2 linked regions of the Homo sapiens genome follow. The protein of the gene in region 1 purifies or fractionates together with the protein of each later gene. This does not show direct contact. Each region holds a gene or a part of one and is shown on either strand. Other genes may lie near its edges.

Evidence for each region. The genes of interacting proteins can lie anywhere in the genome.
Region 2: the proteins of TSC22D4 (region 1) and PRKD2 purify together in Homo sapiens (affinity purification with mass spectrometry; 4 studies listed by BioGRID and IntAct, with this or other methods). This does not show direct contact.

The regions. Positions count from the first base shown.
Region 1 is NC_000007.14:100,466,002-100,469,233, reverse strand, and holds the end of TSC22D4 (TSC22 domain family protein 4), read left to right. Parts: intron 1-1,633; coding exon 1,634-1,682; intron 1,683-2,065; coding exon 2,066-2,275; 3' UTR 2,276-2,715; downstream 2,716-3,232. Other genes in the region: TSC22D4-C7ORF61 (uncharacterized protein LOC122198330), read left to right, coding at 1,634-1,682.
Region 2 is NC_000019.10:46,693,103-46,700,138, reverse strand, and holds part of PRKD2 (serine/threonine-protein kinase D2), read left to right. Parts: intron 1-2,288; coding exon 2,289-2,406; intron 2,407-2,904; coding exon 2,905-2,982; intron 2,983-6,005; coding exon 6,006-6,264; intron 6,265-7,036.

The DNA of each region.
Region 1 (3,232 bases):
TTTTTTAAGACAGAGTTTTGCTCTTGTTGTCCAGGCTGGAATTCAGTGGCACGATCTCGGCTCACTGCAACCTCCGCCTCCCAGGTTCAAGCGATTCTCCTGCCTCAGCCTCCAGAGTAGCTAGGATTACAGGCACCCCCCACCATGCCCAGCTAATTTTTTGTACTTTTAGTAGAGCCAGGGTTTCACCATGTTGGCCAGGCTGGTCTCAAACTTCTGACCTCAGGTGATCCACTCGCCTCAGCCTCCCAAAGTGCTGGGATTACAAGCGTGAGCCACCACACCTGGCTTTTTTTTGAGACAAGATCTCACTCTGTCGTCCAGGCTGGAGTGCAGTAGCACGATCTCGGCTCACTGCAACCTCCACCTCCTGGGTTCAAGCGATTCTCCTGCCTCAGCCTCCTGAGTAGCTGGAATTGCTGGCACCCTCCACCACGCCTGGCTAATTTTTGTATTTTCAGTAGAGATGGGGTTTCTCCATGTTGGCCAGGCTGGTCTCAAACTCCTGACCTCAAGTGATACACCCACCTTGGCCTCCCAAAGTGCTGGGATTACAGGTGTGAGCCACCACGCCTGGCCTTTACGCTGTATTCATCTTCTAGGGCTTTGGGCTCAGTTTCTGTTGCCATGGTAACCTTTCCCATTTTTGGTCTTCTCTGGAGACTCAGGGACCCTCTGGCCAGATCCCAGGGGTCACCCATGATGTGAGCCTTGTGGGGTTTTTTGGTGGGAGAGCGCTCATGATCTATGGAAGACCACGAGCACGTCAGAACGCCCCCTACCCCAGCCACCTCCACCCTCTTTCCCAAGGCCTTGAGTGACGGAGGGGACAGAATGGGGTCGGAGGTGGCGAGGGGCCTCCGAAGGCCAGCCCCTTCCTCTCCCTTCACACCCTTCACTCCCCGCTCAGACCCAGGCTTCTGCCCCACGCCCCTCCCCTGGCCCAGCCACCAGCTGACTTCCTCGGCCGGCCCCCTCCCCTCCACTCTGGGATTGGTGCCAGGGTGAGAAGGGGACACTGGCACTGACCGTGTCTGGGAATTCCCGCCCACCGAGGAGCTGAAAGGAGGGGGGGTCCCCGTGTCCCCAAGGAGCCAATAGCAGCCAGGCCTTGCCCTTGGGGGGGTGGTGTATATCTTTCAGGCCAGCACCCCCGAGGCACTGTCTCCTCTCTGCCTGCCTGGCACCAGCCAGACCCTGCTCTGCCCGGGGGGCTCTGAGCCCCCCAGGCATTCCCTTCACTGCATCCCTCTCCATTGGGGGGGTGTCTAAGGACCCTTTCCCCTTGGGCATGGCCCAGCCAGGGGTCTCTGTCAAGTCCCTGGTGTCGTCTTATGAGACCCGAGTGGTGGGGATGGCTCCGGGGCTGCCCCGAAAAAGGGGCTGTGCCTCTTCCCCTTGCTCTCCCCGGGGTGCATCCCCCATCCGAGGGACATCTGGGCCCCCGCCCCACCGGGGCCTGGGAGGCCCTGGGCAGCGGCCTTCAACCCGCAGGGGGATGGACAAAACCCTCCTCTCCCTCATTCTCTACTGTCACAGGTACAGGGGGGTGTGGGCGGGAGGCTGTGGTCCAAGAAACCAGCACCTGGGAAGGCTTCTCCTCTCCTCCCCTCACCTTCCTGTGTCTCTCCAGTGGCTCCGGAAGCCTGGTTGGCATTGACAACAAAATCGAGCAAGCCATGGTAAGAGAAGCCATCTTGGTCCCAGGAGGTCCTGGCCCCCTTAAGCCATCCCTCTGCCCCAGCCCTGTCCTCTTCCTTACCAGGGAACACCAACTCCCAGCTCCTCCGTCCCTCTCCCTGCTGGGCTGCTGGGCATCCTCTGCCCCCTCCTGCCACCACCTCCACCCTTGACTTTGCCCAGCCTCTAGTCTGGCTACTGGTCCCCATCTCTGTCTTTGAGCCCTGACTCTGCCTCTGTCCCTCGTCCTTTTCCCCTGTCCCTTCCCTGCTTTGTCCCTCATCCTCTGGACACTGGGGACTGTCTCCCACCCCAGCCCTCAAGGCACTGGGCAGGGGATGAGGCACCCACCCCGTTGACGCTGTGCCTGTCCCGGGGCCCCCAGGACTTGGTGAAGTCCCACCTCATGTTTGCGGTCCGGGAGGAGGTGGAGGTGCTGAAGGAGCAGATCCGGGAATTGGCGGAGCGGAACGCTGCGCTGGAGCAGGAGAATGGGCTGCTGCGCGCCCTGGCCAGCCCGGAGCAGCTGGCTCAGCTGCCCTCCTCGGGGGTCCCACGGCTTGGGCCCCCTGCGCCCAATGGGCCCTCCGTCTGAGCCTCCCTTCCCTTACAATGTGCCTTTGGGGCTGCCCGGCCTTGCGTCAGCCGCCTGCCCCCTCTTCCTATGCAGCTTTAATGTCCCCGTGTCCCCGGGGTGGGAGTTCAAGGCTCAGTAATGGCCTGGTCCCCCGGCCCCTGCCCCATCTCCTCATCATCCCCAGCCTTGATGGAGGAGGGAGGGCTTCAGGACGGGGCGTCAGAGGGAGCCCCCTCTGGGAGGGAACCAACCCCCACCCTCCCTCCTGGGACCCCCCAGCAGTAGACGGCTTGGGGGAGTCGGAGGCTCCCCGGCAGACACCCCACCCCCATCTTGTTCCCTTGAGGTGCCTCCTCTCCTCTGCCCAGGGGAGGGAGTGTGGACAGTATCTGGAAGTTCTGGGATTCAGGTTGTTATTAAAATAATAATAATAATTAAAAACTCTGAAGAAACTTGAATTTGGAGGTTGACATCTCGTTCGTTGCTTGTGTTCAGACTCAGGGGTCGCGCCTGCCATTTAGGGCTCCCCTGAGATCTTTTGCAGACTGGGGAGGTTTAAAGCGTGGGAGACGGAGGAATTGAGACAGAGGCTGGAGAAGGGAGCCAGCGGTTCGGGTCCTGGGAAGGGGCAAGTGAGGATTGGGGGTGGGGGGGCGTCTGCCCACGTGCTGGGCGGGGGGCTGGGAAACAATAAGGTCTTTGGTGGTTGCCCAAGATCCACCCCTGGCTTCCCAGTGTGTCCCCTCTGCGGGCTGGATCCGGGTGGCTGCTTGGGGGCGGGGCGGGGGGCCCTGAATGGGCCCCTTGTCTCGGGGCTGGGTGTGGGCCAGGCTCCCCGGGCACACGGTGCCCTTGCCAGGCCTGGCCAGCCGCCGTGGCTCCCACCCCCGGCCAGCTGAGGACGGGCCCTGTGGGTGAGCTGGCCCCTCCCTGGCAGCCTGGGCTCCGGTCCCAGGCGGAAGAGTCAGCAGCAAT
Region 2 (7,036 bases), on another chromosome or scaffold:
TCAGCCTCCCAAGTAGCTGGGACTACAGGCACCCGCCCAGGCCCAGCTACTTTTTTTGTATTTTTAGTAGAGACAGGGTTTTGCCATGTTGGTCAGGCTGGTCTTGAACTCCCAACCTCAGGTAATCCACCTGCCTCGGCCTCCCAAAGTGCTGGGATTACAGGCATGAGCCACCGCGCCTGACCTATATTCCTCTTCTTTTTTTTTTTTTTTTTTTTTTAAGATAGGGGGTCTTGCTATGTTGCCCAGGGTGGTCTTGAACTTCTGCGCTCAAGCAATCCTCCCACCTCAGCCTCCCAAAGTTCTGGGATTACAGGTGTGTGCCACTGTGCCCCCAGCCTACACATTTTTAAACTATACACGGAGTTCATACTTAGTCAGCTCCACTGGAATGTGAGCTCAGGTGCATGAGGGCAAGGATATTTTCTGCCCTCCCAGGTGCCTAGGACAGGACTGGCTCAGATCAGGCACTTCCTATCTGGGTGTGGCGTGAATGTTTATTGAGAAAGCACAGTTCACACAGGCGCTGGAGGGTGACAGCCCAGATCCCAGCTCTACCACTTCACTTGCTAGGCGCTTCCCTGTGTGCCACGGTTTCCTCCTGGGGCGATGAGGTACCTACCCCACGGGGTGATAAACCTGGGGTAGGGGTAAGGGGGCACCCTCACAGGTGCACTGGAAAATATTTAATGAGCACCTGCTGTGTTCAAGCACACAGCTATGAACAAAAGAGGTAAAAGTCTGCCCTTCTGGAGCTGACTGCCTCAGTGGGGAGACAGCTAATAAATGCATCCATAGCATCGGGTATTGGTAATGGTGATAAAAACAAGAGGAGATGGAGAATGGGGGACATGCTATCTTAGGGTCCTTCAAGGAGACCTCGCTGAGGAAGTGGCAGTTGAAGGGAGGGGAGGGAAGGAGCCTTGTGGGGCTCTGGGGGAAAAGGCTTCCAGGCAGAGGCAACAGCGAGTGCAAAGGCCCTGGGGTGGAGGCACCGTGTTCCAGGGACAGCAAAGAGACCCATGTAGCTGCAGCAGGGAGGGCGAGGGGAAGAGGGTTGGACAGAAAGGGGATGGGTAAGCCAGTCACAGTGACGACAGAGTGTTTCCTGCGGTGCCTCCCAACCCAAGCAGCCTGAAGCCGCAGGTTCCCTTTCTCCCACGTCTTTCCTGGGAATGCCTAGTAACACCGTCATACACTGTCAAGAGTTGGACCTTGAGGGATTGGGGGTGGCGGGTGTGGGGAGAGGCAGCCCATTTCACAGATGGGGAAACTGAGTCTCAGGCAAAGAGATGTGATCAAGGCCACCCAGGTTCTGATCTAGCACAGGGATCCAGAGATTGTTGGTTCCAGAGTTGAGCAAGTCACTTAATCTCTCAAATCTCAAACTCCTGACCTCAAGTGATCCCCCCACTTCTGCCTCCCAAAGTGTTGGGATTACAGGCATGAGCCACCATGCCCAGCAGGCCACTTAATCTCTGTAGACCTTCCTTACTGTACTAACAGCATCTGCACAAATGAGGGAGGTGAGGCCCAGAGAGGTTGAATCACTTACCCAGTGTCACACAGCTGGCTCCACAATTGCTGGACTAAATACCAATTAGCACTTACTGGAGGTCCTCTGTATGCCAGGCACTGTACTAAGCTCCGTAGAAAGGTTTCCATTCCTCATAGCATCCCCTTTGGGTGGACAAACTGAGGCATGAAGAGGTTAGGTAATTTGCTAGGCAGCCTGACTTCAGAAAGGCCTACTACAGAAGCCCTCTCAAGAATCTCCTTCTGGGCCAGCGTGGTGGCTCACACCTGTAAGCACTCTGGGAGGCCGAGGCGGATGGATCTCGTGAAGGGATTCTAAGGGTGGGACTAGGGGCAGGAGTTAGGGAAGGAGTTGAGGCAAAGAGTTCGAGACCAGCCTGGCCAACATGGTGAAACCTCATCACTACTAAAAATACAAAAATTAGCCAGGGGTGGTGGCGTGCACCTAATGGTCACCGTGATTGTCCCGGCCACTCAGGAGGCTGAGGCACGAGAATCGCTTGAACCCGGGAGGCAGAGGTTGCAGTGAGCCGAGATCGCACCACTGCATTCCAGCCTGGGTGACAGAGCGAGCCTCTTAAAAACAAACAAAAAGCAACTCCCGGGTGTGTGTTGGGGGGAAAATGTCAAAACAAACCAAACAAACAAAAACAGTCCCCAACTCCCTAGTTTCCCAGAGATGCCCCCTGCATTCCCAAGCAGCATGGTCACTTTCTGCATGTGACTTCTCACCCCTTCCTCTTCCTTCGCAGCTCCCTGGGGTACATCCCCCTAATGAGGGTGGTGCAATCGGTGCGACACACGACGCGGAAATCCAGCACCACGCTGCGGGAGGGTTGGGTGGTTCATTACAGCAACAAGGACACGCTGGTGAGTGGCCGGGGCGGGGCCGGGTACGGCGGAGCGAAGGCTGGAAGAGGGGCGGCTCAGCTTGAGTAGGCGGGGCTAGGTGGGTGGGGCTGGAGCTAGGCGCGAGCGGGGCCAGTAGTGGGCTGGGCCGTGCTGGAGGCGGGGCTAGAATTAGAAGTGTGGGCTGTAAGGGTGGGACTACGGGCAGGAGTTAGGGAAGACCCGGGGCTCAGGGCAAGGTCAGGGGCGGGGCTAGAGTTAGGGGAGGAGCTTGGCTGGAGGAAGAGGGCTAAGTGGGGGCGAGTCTGGGGTTAGGGCGTGGGGGCTGGGCTAGGGTTAAGGCTAGGGGCGGGGCTGGGGTTAGGGCGTGTGGTGGGGTGGGGTTACGGCGTGGGGTAGGTGCTAGAGTTACGGCGTGCACGTGGTGCTCCAGGCACCTGGAGCCCCAAGCAGCTCCACGGGATAGGGACTGGGCAGGAAAGTCTGGCGGTTCACGTGACTCTTCAAACATCTCTGCAGAGAAAGCGGCACTATTGGCGCCTGGACTGCAAGTGTATCACGCTCTTCCAGAACAACACGACCAACAGATACTATAAGGTAAGCCTCCGGGCTTTCAGCTCCCTCGGACTTCCCGCTGTGCCCACAAACTTTCCCACACCTCCTCCTACCCCCAGTTACTCCAGACAGATCCTGCAAATCACACCCTCTGCCCACCCCCAGCCTCCCTGCTTCCAGCTCATCAGCAAGTGCTGCCCATCCGATTCTGGCCCCACCACTTTCCAGCCAGGGGGACTCCGGGCAGGTTCCCTTACTTCTCAGTGCCTCACGCTTCTCACCTGCAAAATGCCTCAAATGCTAATACTCACCTCAGGGCTGGTGCGAGAATTCAAAGAGCCAATCCACTAAACCAATTGGCTTAAGGCGTGGTATATATTAAGCTCCCAGTAATTCTAAGGCTGTTCTCACTATTCCTTTATTTTTTGTTATTTATTTATTTTTTGAGACAGAGTCTCACTCTGTCGCCCAGCTGGAGTGCAGTGGCGCGATCTCGGCTCACTGCAACCTCCGCTTCCCGGGTTCAAGCGATTCTCCTGCCTCAGCCTCCCACCCTAGGACTACAGGTGAATGCCACCACACCCAGCTAATTTTTGTATTTTTAGTAGAGACGGGGTTTCACCATGTTGGACAGGATGGTCTTGATCTCTTGACCTCATGATCTGCCCCCCTCGGCCTCCCAAAGTGCTGGGATTACAGGCATGAGCCACCGCACCCGGCCTCACTATTTCTTTATAATTAATGTATTGCATTGTGTGCGTATTCGTCACCACCTCCCATGCCCACACTGTGTCCCAGCCACTGTCTTCCACCTGGATGGTTTCAGCCTTCTCCTTGCAGGGTCCTTGCTTCTGACCTCACAACCTCTGTCATTTCCCCCACAGCCAGGGGAGTCTTCATTAAAACCGTCAAACCCCCCAGTGGCTCCCATTGTCTTAGAGTAATAAAACCTGGACTCCAGCTGTTACCTGCCCTGGAGCGTCTTCCTTGAACTTTCCATGGCTGGTTCCTTATCATCTTCCCATTTTGCTCAGACCACACCATCTAAAATGCTGTCCTTGGCCAGGCGTGGTGGCTCACGCCTGTAATCCCAGCGCTTTCAGAGGCCGAGGTGGGCGGATCACTTGAGATCATGAGTTCGAAACCAGCCTGGCCAATATGGTGAAACCTTGTCTGTACTAAAAATACAAAAATTAGCTGGGCATGGTGGCGGGTGCCTATAACCCCAGCTACTTGGGAGGCTGAGGCAGGAGAATTGCTTGAACCTGGGAGGTGGAGGTTGCAGTGAGCTGAGATCGCGTCACTGCACTCCTGCCTGGGCAACAGAGCAAGACTCCATCTCAAAAAAATAAAATAAAATAAAATATAATGCTGTCCTCACCATGCCCCCCCGACGTGTCCATGTCATCACCTGGTTTTATGGGCTGCCTAAGTCATTCATTCTTTCCTCTCTCCTACCTCCCTCCTTCCTCTTTTGACACGTTTCCCACCCCATAGTCCCTGTGCCTTCTGTCCCGCCTGGGTCCCCTCAGCCTCCTTCCTGGTTCTCTGTCTCCATCTCATTCTATTCCATCTGCCCTCCGCACACAAGCGGATGATGCTCAAAAGCCTTCAGTGGCTTCCTAGGGCCCTTGGACAAAGCCCAGGCTCTTCCTTGTGGCCCGCAAAGCCCTGTGTGGCCTCATTTCCTCCATTTATTATCAAACGTTTATTTTTGAGACGGAGTCTCGCTCTGTCACCCAGGCTGGAGTGCAGTGGCGCGATCTTGGCTCACTGCAACCTCCGCCTCCGGGGTTCAAGTGATTCTTCTGCCTCAGCCTCCCAAGTAGCTAGGATTATAGGTGTGCCACCACGCCTGGCTAATTTTTGTATTTTTAGTAGAGATGGGCTTTCACCATGTTGGTCAGGCGGGTCTCGAACTCCTGACTTTGTGATCCGCCTGCCTTGGCCTCCCAAAGTGTTGGGATTACAGGCATGAGCCACCATGCCCAGCCCATTTATTTATTTTGAGACAGGCTCTTGCCCTGTCTCCCAGGTGCAGTGGCATGATCATGGCTCACTGTAACCTCTGCCTCCCTGGCTCAAATGATTCTCCCACCTCCACAGTAGCTGGGATTACAGGTGCGCACCACCACACCTGGCTAGTTTTTTTATTTTTTGTAGAGATGGGGGTCTCATTGTGTTGCTCTGGCTGGTCTCAAACTCCTGGGCTCCAGCGATCTGCCTGCCTTGGCCTCCCAAAGTGCTGGGATTACAGGCTTGTGGCACCATGCCTAATTTTTAAATTTTTTGTAGAGCTGGGGTCTCACTGTGTTGCCCAGGCTGGTCTTGAACTCCTGGGCCATCTGCCCACCTCGGCCTCCCAAAGTGCTGGGAGTACAGGCACGAGCCACCACATCCGGCCATCAAATGTTTATCAAGCTTTTACTATGTCCAGGCACCGCCCATGTGATGGGGATACAGCTTGGCTTTTGAGCATAGCCTTTCCTTAGGGCCTTTGCACATGCTGTTCCCCTACTCCTTGCCAACTGGCTGCTTCTTACCTTTCTGGTCTCTGCTTCAATATCACTTCTGCCAGTAATTAGTATTATTATTATTATTTTTGAGACGGAATCTCACTCTGTCGCCCAGGCTGGAGTGCAGTGGTGCGATCTTGGCTCATTACAACCACCGCCTCCCAGGTGCAAGCGATTTTCCTGCCTCAGCCTCCCGATTAGCTGGGATTACAGGCGCACACCACCACGCCTGGCTAATTTTTGTATTTTCAGTAGAGACGGGATTTTGCCATGTTGGCCAGGCTGGTCTCGAACTCCTGACCTCAAGTGAGCTGCCCACCTCGGCCTTCCAAAGTGTTGGGATTACAGGCATGAGCCACCGCACCTGGCCTCTGCCAGTAATTATAAAAGAACAGTGAGAACAGGCTTAGAATTACTGGGAACTTGTCTGACCACTGTGCAAACCAGGCCCATCCCTATCAACATGGATCCCGTGTATCCTTCTGGGTAAGCACTAGAATTCCAAGGTCTGCCTGGCATCCTCACCTGTGCTGGTTCCACGTCCTGCAGGAAATTCCGCTGTCAGAAATCCTCACGGTGGAGTCCGCCCAGAACTTCAGCCTTGTGCCGCCGGGCACCAACCCACACTGCTTTGAGATCGTCACTGCCAATGCCACCTACTTCGTGGGCGAGATGCCTGGCGGGACTCCGGGTGGGCCAAGTGGGCAGGGGGCTGAGGCCGCCCGGGGCTGGGAGACAGCCATCCGCCAGGCCCTGATGCCCGTCATCCTTCAGGACGCACCCAGCGCCCCAGGCCACGCGCCCCACAGTAAGTCCTCCCACCTCGGGTCCTTGAGAGAATAGATCTAGATGGGTGGGGCACGGTTCTGGGGAATGGAAGGGCCAAAGAGGAAAGTGGGCAATGGTGGGGTTGAGAACGCAGCTTCTGGACTCAGCAGGCCTGGGTTCAAACTCTGTTAATCACTCCTGTTAATCCCAGCGCTTTGGGAAGCCAAGGAGGGAGGATCACTTGAGGCCAGGAGTTCAAGACCAGCCTGGGCAACATAATGAGATTCCATCTCTACAAAAAATAAAAACAATTAGCCAGGTGTGGTGGTGCACACCTGTAGTTCCAGGTACTTGGAAGGCTGAGGCAGGAGAATTGCTTGAGCCTGGGAGTAGTGAGTCATGATTGCATCACTGCACTCCAGTCTGGGTGACAGAGCAAGACTCTGTCTCCAAAACAGAAAAAACAACAACAACAAAAATCCACAACAAATCTCTGTTAAGCTCCTGGCCTGATATGTGGCCCTGGGCATATCACTTCCCCTCCATGAGCCTTGTCCCAGGTGCTGATAAGTCCTCATGCACTTACTGAGTGCCTCCTCTGTGCGGGACAGTGCTGGGGACCCAGTGGTGGCCAGGACAGCCCAAGACCTGCCCTCATGGGGCTCAGAGTCCAGTAGGGCAGAATACCCATCTTCAGAGAGTGACAGTCCAGGGTGGGCAGGGTTGGGACAAGGAAGCTAGGGAGCTAGAGGAGCCCAGAGGGGTACCTGACCCAATCTGGGTATATAGGGGGGCTTCCTGGAGGAGGTGAC